3 linked regions of the Homo sapiens genome follow. The protein of the gene in region 1 purifies or fractionates together with the protein of each later gene. This does not show direct contact. Each region holds a gene or a part of one and is shown in the gene's direction. Other genes may lie near its edges.

Region 1 (3,718 bases):
GGAGTGTTGCTCTGTTACCCAGGCTGGAGTGCAGTGGCGTGATCTCGGCTCACTGCAGCCTCTGTCTCCTGGGTTCAAGCGATTCTCCTGCCTCAACTTCACAAGTAGCTGGGACTACAGGCATGCACCACCACGCCCAGCTAATTTTTGTATTTTTTAGTAGAGATGAGATTATGTTGGCCAGGCTAGTCCTGAACTCCTAACCTCAGGTGATCCACCTGCCTCAGCCTCCCAAAGTGCTGGGGTTGCAGGCATGAGCCACTGCGCCCGACCCTTTTTTTTTTTTTGAGACAGGATCTCGCTCTGTCACCCAGGCTGTAGTGCAGTGGTGCGATCCTGGCTCACTGCAACCTTCACCTCCCTGGTTCAAGCGATTGTGTCTCAGCCTCCCAAGTAGCTGGGATTACAGATGCCCACCACCATGCCCAGCTAATTTTTTTTATTTTAGTAGAAATGGGATTTCACCATGTTGGCCAGGCTGGTCTCAAACCCCTGGCTTCAAGTGATCCACCTGCACAGGCCTCCCAAAGTGCTGGGATTACAGGCGTGAGCCACTGCACCCGGCCCCTCCCTTCCACTTCTGACTGGGCTTCCATTTCCCCATGATTTTTCCCGCCTCCTCCCAGACTTCCCAGCCCTGCCCTTTGCTCAGAATTCTAGACCTTGAAGGTTGAAGCCCGTGGACACCGTGGTGCCCACACTGCCAGCCAGACCAGCGGGGACACAGGCCTAGCAAAGGCCAGTGGCACACCCCAGGCTACAAGTGCGCCAGGGTGTCCTGCCCTGCCCACCCCTCTGTGACCCTTGCCTGCCTCCTCTCGAACCCAGGGTCTCTTCCGTCTGGCTGCTGGGGCCTCGGTGCTGAAGCGTCTCAAGCAGACAATGGCCTCGGACCCCCACAGCCTGGAGGAGTTCTGCTCCGACCCGCACGCTGTGGCAGGTGCCTGATCCGGGGAGCCCTGGGCAGGAGGTTGGGGGGGAGGGGGTGCAGTGGCTTGAAACGATCCCAAGATAGCCTGGCTTTAAGACTTGATATTCTGTTGAGACTGAGGACACTCGGGTTCTTAATGTGGGGTCCATCATGAGCCCCCCGAAAATGTTTGGCATTTTTCTGGGGACAAGATGGCTAGCCTTCATTTTCTCAAAAGGGCCTACAGCCCAAAGAAACTGTCAGACCTAGACACGTTAGTGTGAACAAGGGCCGGAGGTTCCTTCTACAGGGAGAGTGGGAGAGCGGGTGGGGGCTGCCTCTGACCCTCCCCACACCCCTCCTTCAGGTGCCCTCAAGTCCTATCTGCGGGAGCTGCCAGAGCCTCTGATGACCTTCGACCTCTATGATGACTGGATGAGGGCAGCCAGGTGAGGATGTTGGAGGAGGGAGGGGATGGGGAGGAGGAGGATGCAAAGGTGTAGCCCTGCGCTGGCTGACAGGTCTCTCCACTCCCCCCCAGCCTGAAGGAGCCAGGGGCCCGGCTGCAGGCCCTCCAAGAGGTGTGCAGCCGCCTACCCCCCGAGAACCTCAGCAACCTCAGGTGAGCCCGAGCCCGCCTCCCCAGCCTGCCGCAGAGCCAGAGCCCAGCTGAGGTCACGGACCCTGGGACCCTGGGCTTGAGCCTGGCCTTGCCACTGTATCCTAAGAAATATTACTGAAAATGCAGCTTTGATGGATTAGTCATTTATATATATAATTTTTTTTTTTTTTCTGAGACAGGGTCTCACTCTGTCGCCCAAGCTGGAGTGCAGTGGTGCAGTCTTGGCTCACTGCAACCTCCGCCTCCTGGGTTCAAGCAGTTCTCCTGCCTCAGCCTCCCGAGTAGCTAGGACTACAGGCGCCTGCCATCACACTCGGCTAATTTTTGTATTTTTAGTAAAGGTGGGGTTTTACCATGTTGGTCAGGCTGGTCTTGAACTCCTGACCTCAGGTGATCCACCCGCCTCAGCCTCCCAAAGTGCTGGGATTACAGGCGTGAGGCACTGCGCCCAGCCGGATTAGTCACACATTTTTATGCGAAGCATTGAAATAAATGAGACCTTGAACTTTTGAAGCCATACCGCCTGGCTTCACATGCCACCTCTGGGCAGGCCACTCAGCGTCATCATCTGGAAAATGCAGACTGTAACAATCTCTACCCTGTAGGGTGGCTGCTGAGGACTCAGCTTGGCTCAGTGCCCACTGCAGGGTTGGCACTCAGTGGATAAGCTGATTTAACTGTGACAATGTTAAGACCATTCTGGGCGGTGTCTTTCACACTCTTTGGAAACCCTGGGCTGGAGAATTCTCAGGGCTGGGTGCGTTCTGCCCCTGGCCTAAGCCTGCCTCCGCCCTTAGGTACCTGATGAAGTTCCTGGCACGGCTGGCCGAGGAGCAGGAGGTGAACAAGATGACACCCAGCAACATCGCCATAGTCCTGGGACCCAACTTGCTGTGGCCACCTGAGAAAGAAGGGTGAGGGGCCGCGGGCTGGGGGAGGTGGCAGGAGGAAGGCAGATCCCATCCCAACTATCTGTTGTCTATTTTTCCCCGGGGCCTTGGTGTCCCCATTTTTGGAGTGGGTTGAGCAGCTCCTGTTTTTGAGGCTGCCGTGAGGAACAGGCCAAAGGGGCTGTGCAGGCCACAGGGCTTTGGAGAGAGGCAATTCTGGCATTTTGGCCAGTGGTGGTGATGAGGTGTTTAGTGGCATGGGGGAGCTGGGAGCCCAGAGATCGGGTTCTTTTTTTTTTTTTTTTTTTTGAGATGGAGTCTTGCTCTTGTTGCCCAGGCTGGAGTACAGTGGCGCAATCTCGGCTCACTGCAACCTCCGCCTCCCGGGTTCAAGCGATTCTTCTGCCTCAGCCTGCCAGGTAGCTGGGACTACAGGTGCGCACCACCACTCCCGGCTAATTTTTTGTATTTTTAGTAGAGACAGGGTTTCACCGTGTTAGCCAGGGTGGTCTCGATCTCCTCAGCTCGTGATCCACCAGCCTCGGCCTCCCAAAGTGCTGGGATTACAGGTGTGAGCCATCGCGCCCCAGGTGTGAGCTGCCGCGCCTGGCTCGATCAGGTTCTACTAATAGCTCCACCCCTCCACCTTCCAGAGATGGGCCTGAGGAAGACACCCTCAGAACCTCGATTTCCTCATCTGTAAATTGGGGAGAAATCATACAAACTTTGAGGGCTTTTGCTTTGGGGAGTGAGTGATATGATGAATTGGAAAATGTTTTAGAAACTGTGAAGTGCAAGCCAGGTCCAGTGTCATGCCTGTAATCCTAGCACTTTGGGAGGCCAAGGTGGGAAGATCACTTGAACTCAGGAGTTTGAAACCAGCCTGGGCAACTTAATGAGACCCTGTCTCTACAAAAAATTAAAAAGATTAGCCAGGCATGGTGCACACCTGAAGTCTCAGCTACTCAGAAGGCTGAGATGGGAGGACTGCTTGGGCCCAGGGAGTCAAGGCTGCAGTGAGCCATGATGGAGCCACTGCATTCCAGCCTGTGTGACACAATGAGACCCTGTCTCTAAAAATGAAGAAATAGGCCGGGGGCAGCGGCTCACAGCTGTAATCCCAGCACTTTGGGAGGCCGAGGTGGGTGGATCACCTGAGGTCGGGAGTTCGAGACCAGCCTGGCCAACATGGTGAAACTCCGTCTCTACTAAAAATACAAAAATTATCTGGGCGTGGTGGTACGCGCCTGTAATCCCAGCTACTCGGGAGGCTGAGGCAGGAGAATCTCTTGAACC
Region 2 (3,600 bases), on another chromosome or scaffold:
GTTTCGCTCTGTCGCCCAGGCTGGAGTGCAGTGGCGCCATCTCGGCTCACTGCAAGCTCCGCCTACCGGGTTCACGCCATTCTCCTGCCTCAGCCTCCAGAGTAGCTGGGACTACAGGGGCCCGCGACCACGCCCGGCTAATTTTTTGTTTTAGTAGAGACCGGGTTCCACCGTTTTAGCCAGGATGGTCTCGATCTCCTGACCTCGTGTTCCGCCCGCCTCGGCCTCCCAAAGTGCTGGGATTACAGGCGTGAGCCACCGCTCTTGGCTCCCGCTTTATTTTTCTACTCTGTGCATACCACTTTAAAATACACTCTTGGCCCGGCGCAGTGGTTCACGCCTGTAATCTCAGCACTTTGGGAGGCCAAGGCGGGCAGATCACCTGAGGGCGGGAGTTCGAGACCAGCCTGACCAACATGGAGAAACCCCATCTCTACTAAAAATACAAAATTAGTTGGGTGTGGTGACTCGCGCCTGTAGTCCCAGCTACTCGGGAGGCTGAGGCAGGAGAATCGCTTGAACCCGGGAGGCGGAGGTTGTGGTGAGCCGAGATCGTGCCATTGCACTCCAGCCTGGGCAACAAGAGCGAAACTCCGTCTCAAAACAAAACAAAACAACAACAACAAAAACCAAACAAAACACTCTTAGCTGCTGATATTGAGTATCTATCTTCCCTCACACATGTGAACTATGAGATGGCAGAGTTTTGGTCTGTTCTGTCCTCTGCTGCAGCCCAGCCCCTCATCAGTGCCTGATACAGAACAGGCCTTCAATAGGTATGTGCCCCGCTCCTCCCTGCAGCGTCCAGGCTCCAGGCAGCATTCAGGGCTCAAGTTCGGAAGAGTGAAGGCCGTTGAGGGTCCCCTATTAGGCCCCAAGCCCCCTAGAGAGCTCCAACGACATGGCCTGGAGTTTGCTTTGGCGACAGCCGGTCCTGCTGGAACTAGGACATGAGGGTTAGCGATCCCGCCCCATGGGGTCACAGGGCAGAAGCTGCGGGCAGGGGTGGGCATCAGTGGGGCGGTGGTGCAGGGGGTGTCGCTCCCAAGTCAGCTCACACGCACGTCTTCAACACACCCACCACACAGGCACCCGCACGCACCAAGGGACGCCGAGGCTCGGGAGAGGAGGAAAGGCCAAGGCGATGGGGAGATGGGGAGAGAGGCAGGGAGCAACATCCCGGGCTCCGAGCGCGCCAGCTGGGAGGGCTGGGGAGGAGGGCGCACCGGAGGGCTCCCGGCACGCGCGGGGCCGCGGGCAGCCCCCAGAAGAGGGAGCCAGGCAAGACTGCTGGGGCAGGGGTCGGCTGAAGCAGCGGGGAGCCGGACCCCACCCGCCACCCGCCACCCGCCACCCCCGGCGCCTGCCAAACTGGTTGCTGCCTCCCCGGCAGCCGCGGCGCGTCCACCTGCGCAGCCACCGCGCCGCCCTGCCCGCGCTACCATTGGCTCGCTAAAAATGCCTCTCTAATCTGCTCTGCTCGGTGCACGCCTCCTCCTCATCCTTCCCCCCTCTCCGCCTCAGCTCTGACCTTCCTCCTTCCCGCAGCCCCGGCGAGATCCCAGAGCGACGCGGTGGCGGCGGCAGCGCCAGCCCCCTCCTCCCCCGGGAAGTCGGCCGGGCTTGAGGCCGGGCCCCAGACGTCCCGCTTCGCCCCGAGTCGCCGCCGATGGTCCCCGGAGCTCCTGCCCCCAGGTAGGAGGTCTGGCCCTTGAATAGAGGGCGGGGGGGTTGTGTGTGCGGGTGTCCAGTTAGGGAGTGCGTGTTGGAAGTGGGCGCCGGGACTGACATCTCCCTGGGCCAGAGCCCGGGCAGGGTTGGGCAGTTGCCTGGAGAGAAGCGGGTGCGCGTTCGGGGATGCCTTCAGGGGACGGAGTTCGCGGGCATCACCCAGGCAGTGCCAGGATGCCACTGCGCTGGGTCCCTTGGGGGAGCGAGCTGGCATCGGAGGCCCTTACCCCAGGAAAAGCGCCGGAAATAGGTTCCTTGGGAAGCTGGGGCCTGGGCCCGGGCGGTCCGGGTCTCTGGACTGCTACCAGAAGGGGTGGGTGGGCTGGTGCCAGCTTGGTGCATAGGCTATTTATGGATCAGAGTGGGCTGGGGAGAAACACAGCAGCTGATGCCTGTCTGGCTTATGGTTAAAGGTATTTCCTTCTGTCCCCTACCCCTTCCCCCACAGCTGGGATGGGAGCGGGGAGGGGGGAGGAGGCAAGAAGGAGGCGATAATGCTAAAAGGCCCCGCAGATACAGAAGCCATGGGCTGCTGGGCACTGCCCTCCCCTGCAAGCCCCAGGCCACTTGCTGCCTGTTGGAGCTGCCTCTGCCCCTTATTTTCACCTTACAAGAGGCTATGAAAAGGTTAAAGGGTCATCAGGGTGTAGGAGACATGGTGGCAAACCCGGGAGCTTGGCCAGACCCAGCTTCAAGCCCCAGCTGCCCCTACCCACAACAGCCCAGGTCTGCACCACATAGGCAGTGACACATATGGCCGCTTATTTCTAGGCACAACCATAAATAACCCACATTGCCCCAGCCCCTGGCACAGCTGGGGTGCAAACAGGACTGTCTGTCAGTGATTTTGCTTCCATCCTCCATCCTGGCCTTTCTATCACAAGTCCAAATCATCACCCTCCAGCAGCTTCCCTGATACCCCAGGTGAGATCCTTGCCCCCTGCCCTATGTTCTTGGACTGCCTTGTGGCTGGGTTATTTGTCTTGTTCATCTCCTTCTAGACCAGAAGTACCTTCAGGCTGGGAATCTGATTCATCTCTGTCATTGCCCCTGCACCAAAGCAGGGTTTGGCACCAAGAAAATATCTTGTGGAATGCATGACTTATTGAATGAGTGAATGTAAACTCTGGGAAATAGCTGGCAACCTGAGGGAGGGGGTCGAGCCCCTTCTTGGGCTTTCTCTCTATTCCCCAGGACCAAAGAGCCACTCCACTCAAACCAGGTGGTTCTCTTTAGTAGGCCCTTCCTTTTTTTTTTTTTTTTTTTTTTGAGAGAGAGTTTCGCTCTTGTTGCCCAGGCTGGAGTGCAATGGCACGATCTCAGCTCACCGCAACCTCTGCCTCCCGGGTTCAAGCGATTCTCCTGCCTCAGCCTCCTGAGTAGCTGGAATTACAGGCATGCACCACCACACCCGGCTAATTTTATATTTTTAGTAGAGACGGGGTTTCTCCATGTTGGTCAGGCTGGTCTCGAACTCCTGACCTCAGGTGATCTGCCCACCTTGGCCTCTCAAAGTGCTAGGATTACAGGCCTGAGCCATCATGCCCGGCTAGGCCCTTCCTAAGCCTGGAGTTGATGGGCAGCTATGCCTTTTGGAGATAGTGTTGCAACCTGCTGGCTCCAGAGGGTCTTATGGGCCCCTGGTTTGAGTGTCCAGGCCTGGTCCTGGCTTGAGGGAAGGCCTGATGTGAAGGTCTGGCTCTCCTCAGGCCGCTGGGTTGGCACTTTCTTCCCGGGGTGCCAACTTTAGACCAGAGTCTCTGCCTCTGTCCCAGCCCTTGGGAAAATCCAGGTCAACATCAGGGAAGCTGGGAAGGCCCAAGCCAGGCCTTCCTCAGCCTCTAAGGTCTTCATAGCAAGCTCTCAGGG
Region 3 (3,718 bases), on another chromosome or scaffold:
GCAAATAGTTTGAGAGCTGATTCCAGAGACCCTCCTAGGGGAGTAAGGAAGTGAGGCAGGGAACAGGAGGTAGTCATTAAAGGTGTCTTCTAAGCCCAGTTACCACTGCGGGCACCTGGAGCTCAATCCCACTGAGGAGCTCTGGGAGCCAGGGTAGAACAGGCTTGAGAGGTGAGGGAACCGGGGTATTTGTCCACCCTGTTCTCGCTCCTGTCTTTTGTTGAAAACTACTCCTGGGGATGTGATAATTCTCTAGCACTTTCGGCTTGCCAAGCCCATGGGCAGAGCAGGCACCAATAGCCACAGAGAAATCTCTCAGACAAAGAGATGAAGGTGCCGGCAGCTGGAAGTCCAGCCAGAATGTGCAGAAATGGTAAAGGGCAGAGTGATAGAGGCAGGGCACTGACAGCCTCTGCTTCAACATACATGTGTGTAAATGCAGAGGCAGAGGCTGAGGCCAAATGCTGGCAGAGGATATCTGGGTGGGGAAAGAGGTGGCCATGGAGGGCTTATAGAATGAGTAATCCAAGAGTGTCTTAAATGTATCTGTAATGTTTTAATCTTCCTTCCTTCCTTCCCTCCCTCCCTCCTTTCTTTTCTTTTCTTTCTTCTTTCCCTTCTTTCCTTCCCCCCTTCTCCTCCTCCTCTTCCTCCTCCTCCACTTTCTTCTTCTCTTCCTTCCTTTCTTCTTTCTCTCTCTCTCTTTCTTTCTTTTTTCTTTCTTTCTTTCTTTCTTCTTTCCCTTCCTCCTCCTCCTCCTTCTTCTTCTTTCTTGCTTCTCTCTCTCTCTCTCTTTTTTTTTTCTTTTTCTTTTTGAGACAGGGTCTCGCTCTGTCTCCCAGGCTGGAGTGCAGTGATGCTATCATGGCTCATGCAGCCCCAACCTCCTGCGCTCAAGCGATCCTCCCACCTCAGCCTCCTGAGTAGCTGGGATCACAGGCACATGCCACCACACCCAGCTAATAAAAAAAAATTCTGGTAGAAATGGGGTCTTGCCATGTTGCCCAGGCTGGTCTTAAATTCCTCGGCTCAAACGATCCTCCTGTCTTGACCTCTCAAAGTGCTGGTATTACAGATGTGAGCCACCATACCTGGCCTCTAATGGTTTAATTTTTAACAAGAAGGATGCACTAATGTTTTACTAGGTGGTAAAAGGTCATTTTAAAAATAAAATACATACCCTTCAAAAAATAAAAGAAACTGAGACCTGGAGCTTTGTCAATTATAAAAAAAATGTAAAAGGATCAGCGCCTGTGTTACTGAGGCTTTGAGGATTCCATTTGTGGAGGACAGGTTTGGGGGCAGCTGATCTCTCAGTACCACGGCAGGTTAAAGTGAAAAGTGGCCCTGGTGGTGAACTGGCCACCATGTCCTGTCTGGAGGGGGAAACTTCCACTCAGCGGCAGCCAAGGAAAGACTGCTCCTCTCCCAGCAGAAGCGAGCAAATGTGCATCACCCTTCTCAGTTTAAACATATATTTATAGCTATTGGTTTTCTTTTTGTTTGTTTGTTTTTGTTTTGAGACAGGATCTCACTCTGTTGCCCAGGCTGGAGTGCAGTGGGGCAATCTTGGCTCACTGCAACCTCTGCCTCTTGAGTTCAAGCAATTCTCCTGCCTTAGCCTCCCAAGTAGCTGGGATTACAGGCACCCACTACCACGCCCAGCTAATTTTTGTATTTTTGGTTGAGACAGGGTTTCACCATGTTGGCCAGGCTTGTCTCAAACTCCTGACATCAGGTGATCCGCCTGCTGACCTCAGGTGATCCGCCTGCCTCAGCTTCCCAAAGTGCTGGGATTGCAGGCATGAGCCATTGCACCTGGCCTATTTATAGCTATTGTTTAGACGGGAAATCTGGGGGCATCCAGCAGACTAAATGGGGACCTTACTGTCATATCTCATATCCTATTGGTCAGATGGATAATAAACAAATCAACAGGTAATACATTAGGTGCATTAGTCCAGGTCCTTTTTTATTTTTTCTTTTCTTTTTCATACTTAACTTCAGCATACCCTGAGATAGTTCAAGTCCTTTGAGAAGCAGACTCCCATAGCATTAAATGTGCAAGAAATTTATTGGAGGAAATGGCTATGAGAGAAAATGGGAAGAAACCAGGAGAGGACAGGAGAGCCATCAGATAGTGGGGTACCTCTGTCCACTAATGAAAAAGAAAAGGAAGGAAGAAAGGAAGGAAGAAGAAAGGAATAAAAGGAGGACGTGTCTTGGACTGCCATGCCGTATTTTTTTTTTGTAGTTGTTGTTCTGTTTTATTTTGTTTTTTTTGAGACAGAGTCTTGCTCTGTTGCCCAGGCTGGAGTGCAGTGGCGCAGTCTTGGCTCACTGCAACCTCCGCCTCCCGGGTTCAAGCAATTCTCCTTCCTCAGCCTCCTGAGTAGCTAGGATTACAAGCATGCGCCACCACGCCCAGCTAATTTTTGTATTTTTAGTAGAGACGGGGTTTCACCATGTTGGCCAGGCTGGTCTTGAACTCCTGACCTTGTGATTCGCCCGCCTTGGCCTCCCAAAGTGCTGGGATTACAGGCGTGAGCCACTGCGCCCAGCTGCCGTGCCATTCTAAGGAAAGTTTGTCAAGGCTGTTAAGGAGCCCTTGGCCAAAGTCTCTTGACAGAGGTCCCCCAGACATGGGTGGGCTTCGGTCTCCCTGCCACACTCAGTCATTGGCTGGGAGCAGCCCATGAGAGCAGTGATGGACTTCAGAGCACAGCAGCTGAGCCGCTGATCAATTTCTCCAGTCGTACTCCTGCAGTTGGAGATCTGAGAGGTGCATCCTCATGGCCACCACGTTTAAGAGGTGGTTAGGGGCATGAAGACTAGCTGGGAACAGGCTAGACAGTGATGGGAGTTGGGGGGCAGAGGATCCTGTCTTTGCCAGGGTGATGAGGGAAGGTTGCTCTGAGAAGGTACAATCATTAGAGAGACTGAAGGAAGTGATGGAGCCTTTCTGGGTGAAGAATATTCCAGAAACAGAACATGCAATGCCCCAGAGGTATAAGCACAGTTGGTGAGTTGAAGAAGAGCAAGGAGGGCTCCAGTGGAATGATCAAGGGAGAGTTAGAAGGAGACAGATCTGAGAGGCTGAGGAGGGGATCAGATTGTGGAGGTCTTACCCACCTTGGAGAGGACTTGGGCTTTTACTCCAAGTGAGACGGAAACCCTGGGTGGGGGTTGAGCAGAGAAGGAATGCGATCTGACTTACCTTTTTTTTTTTTTTTTTTTTTGAGACGGACTCTCACTCTGTTGCCCAGGCTGGACTGCAGTGGTGCGACCTCGGCTCCCTGCAACCTCTGACTCTGGGGTTCAAGCGATTCTCCTGCCTCAGCCTCCTAAGTAGCTGGGATTACAGGCATGCGCCACCATGCCCGCCTAATTTTTGTATTTTTAGTAGAGATGGGGTTTCACCATGTTGGTCAGGCTGGTCTCCAACTCCTGACCTCAGGTGATCTGCCCGCTTCAGCCTCCCAAAGTGCTGGGATTACAGGTGTGAGCCACCATGCCCAGGATGACTTACATTTTTAAAGGCTCACTTATTTGTAAGAGGCAGAATGCAGATTCAAACCCAGCTCTATCTGACTTCAAATCTCATGCTCTATTTTCAAACTGCCCTGCCTCCTGCCTGCCTTAGAGATAAAATCATTCCAAGAAGGTTCACAGTTGCTCTGGAATTCTGAAATTGACCAAGTGTCCCAAGAGTAACATT

Evidence for each region.
Region 2: the proteins of SH3BP1 (region 1) and PACSIN1 purify together in Homo sapiens (co-immunoprecipitation; one large-scale study listed by IntAct). This does not show direct contact.
Region 3: the proteins of SH3BP1 (region 1) and HCK purify together in Homo sapiens (pull-down; one study listed by IntAct). This does not show direct contact.

Annotation. Positions count from the first base shown.
Region 1 is NC_000022.11:37,645,990-37,649,707, forward strand, and holds part of SH3BP1 (SH3 domain-binding protein 1), read left to right. Parts: intron 1-828; coding exon 829-940; intron 941-1,277; coding exon 1,278-1,359; intron 1,360-1,451; coding exon 1,452-1,532; intron 1,533-2,329; coding exon 2,330-2,446; intron 2,447-3,718. UniProt on the Homo sapiens protein: GTPase activating protein (GAP) which specifically converts GTP-bound Rho-type GTPases including RAC1 and CDC42 in their inactive GDP-bound form.
Region 2 is NC_000006.12:34,464,576-34,468,175, forward strand, and holds the start of PACSIN1 (protein kinase C and casein kinase substrate in neurons protein 1), read left to right. Parts: upstream 1-1,500; 5' UTR 1,501-1,695; intron 1,696-3,600. UniProt on the Homo sapiens protein: Plays a role in the reorganization of the microtubule cytoskeleton via its interaction with MAPT; this decreases microtubule stability and inhibits MAPT-induced microtubule polymerization.
Region 3 is NC_000020.11:32,058,719-32,062,436, forward strand, and holds part of HCK (tyrosine-protein kinase HCK), read left to right. Parts: intron 1-3,718. UniProt on the Homo sapiens protein: Non-receptor tyrosine-protein kinase found in hematopoietic cells that transmits signals from cell surface receptors and plays an important role in the regulation of innate immune responses, including neutrophil, monocyte, macrophage and mast cell functions, phagocytosis, cell survival and proliferation, cell adhesion and migration.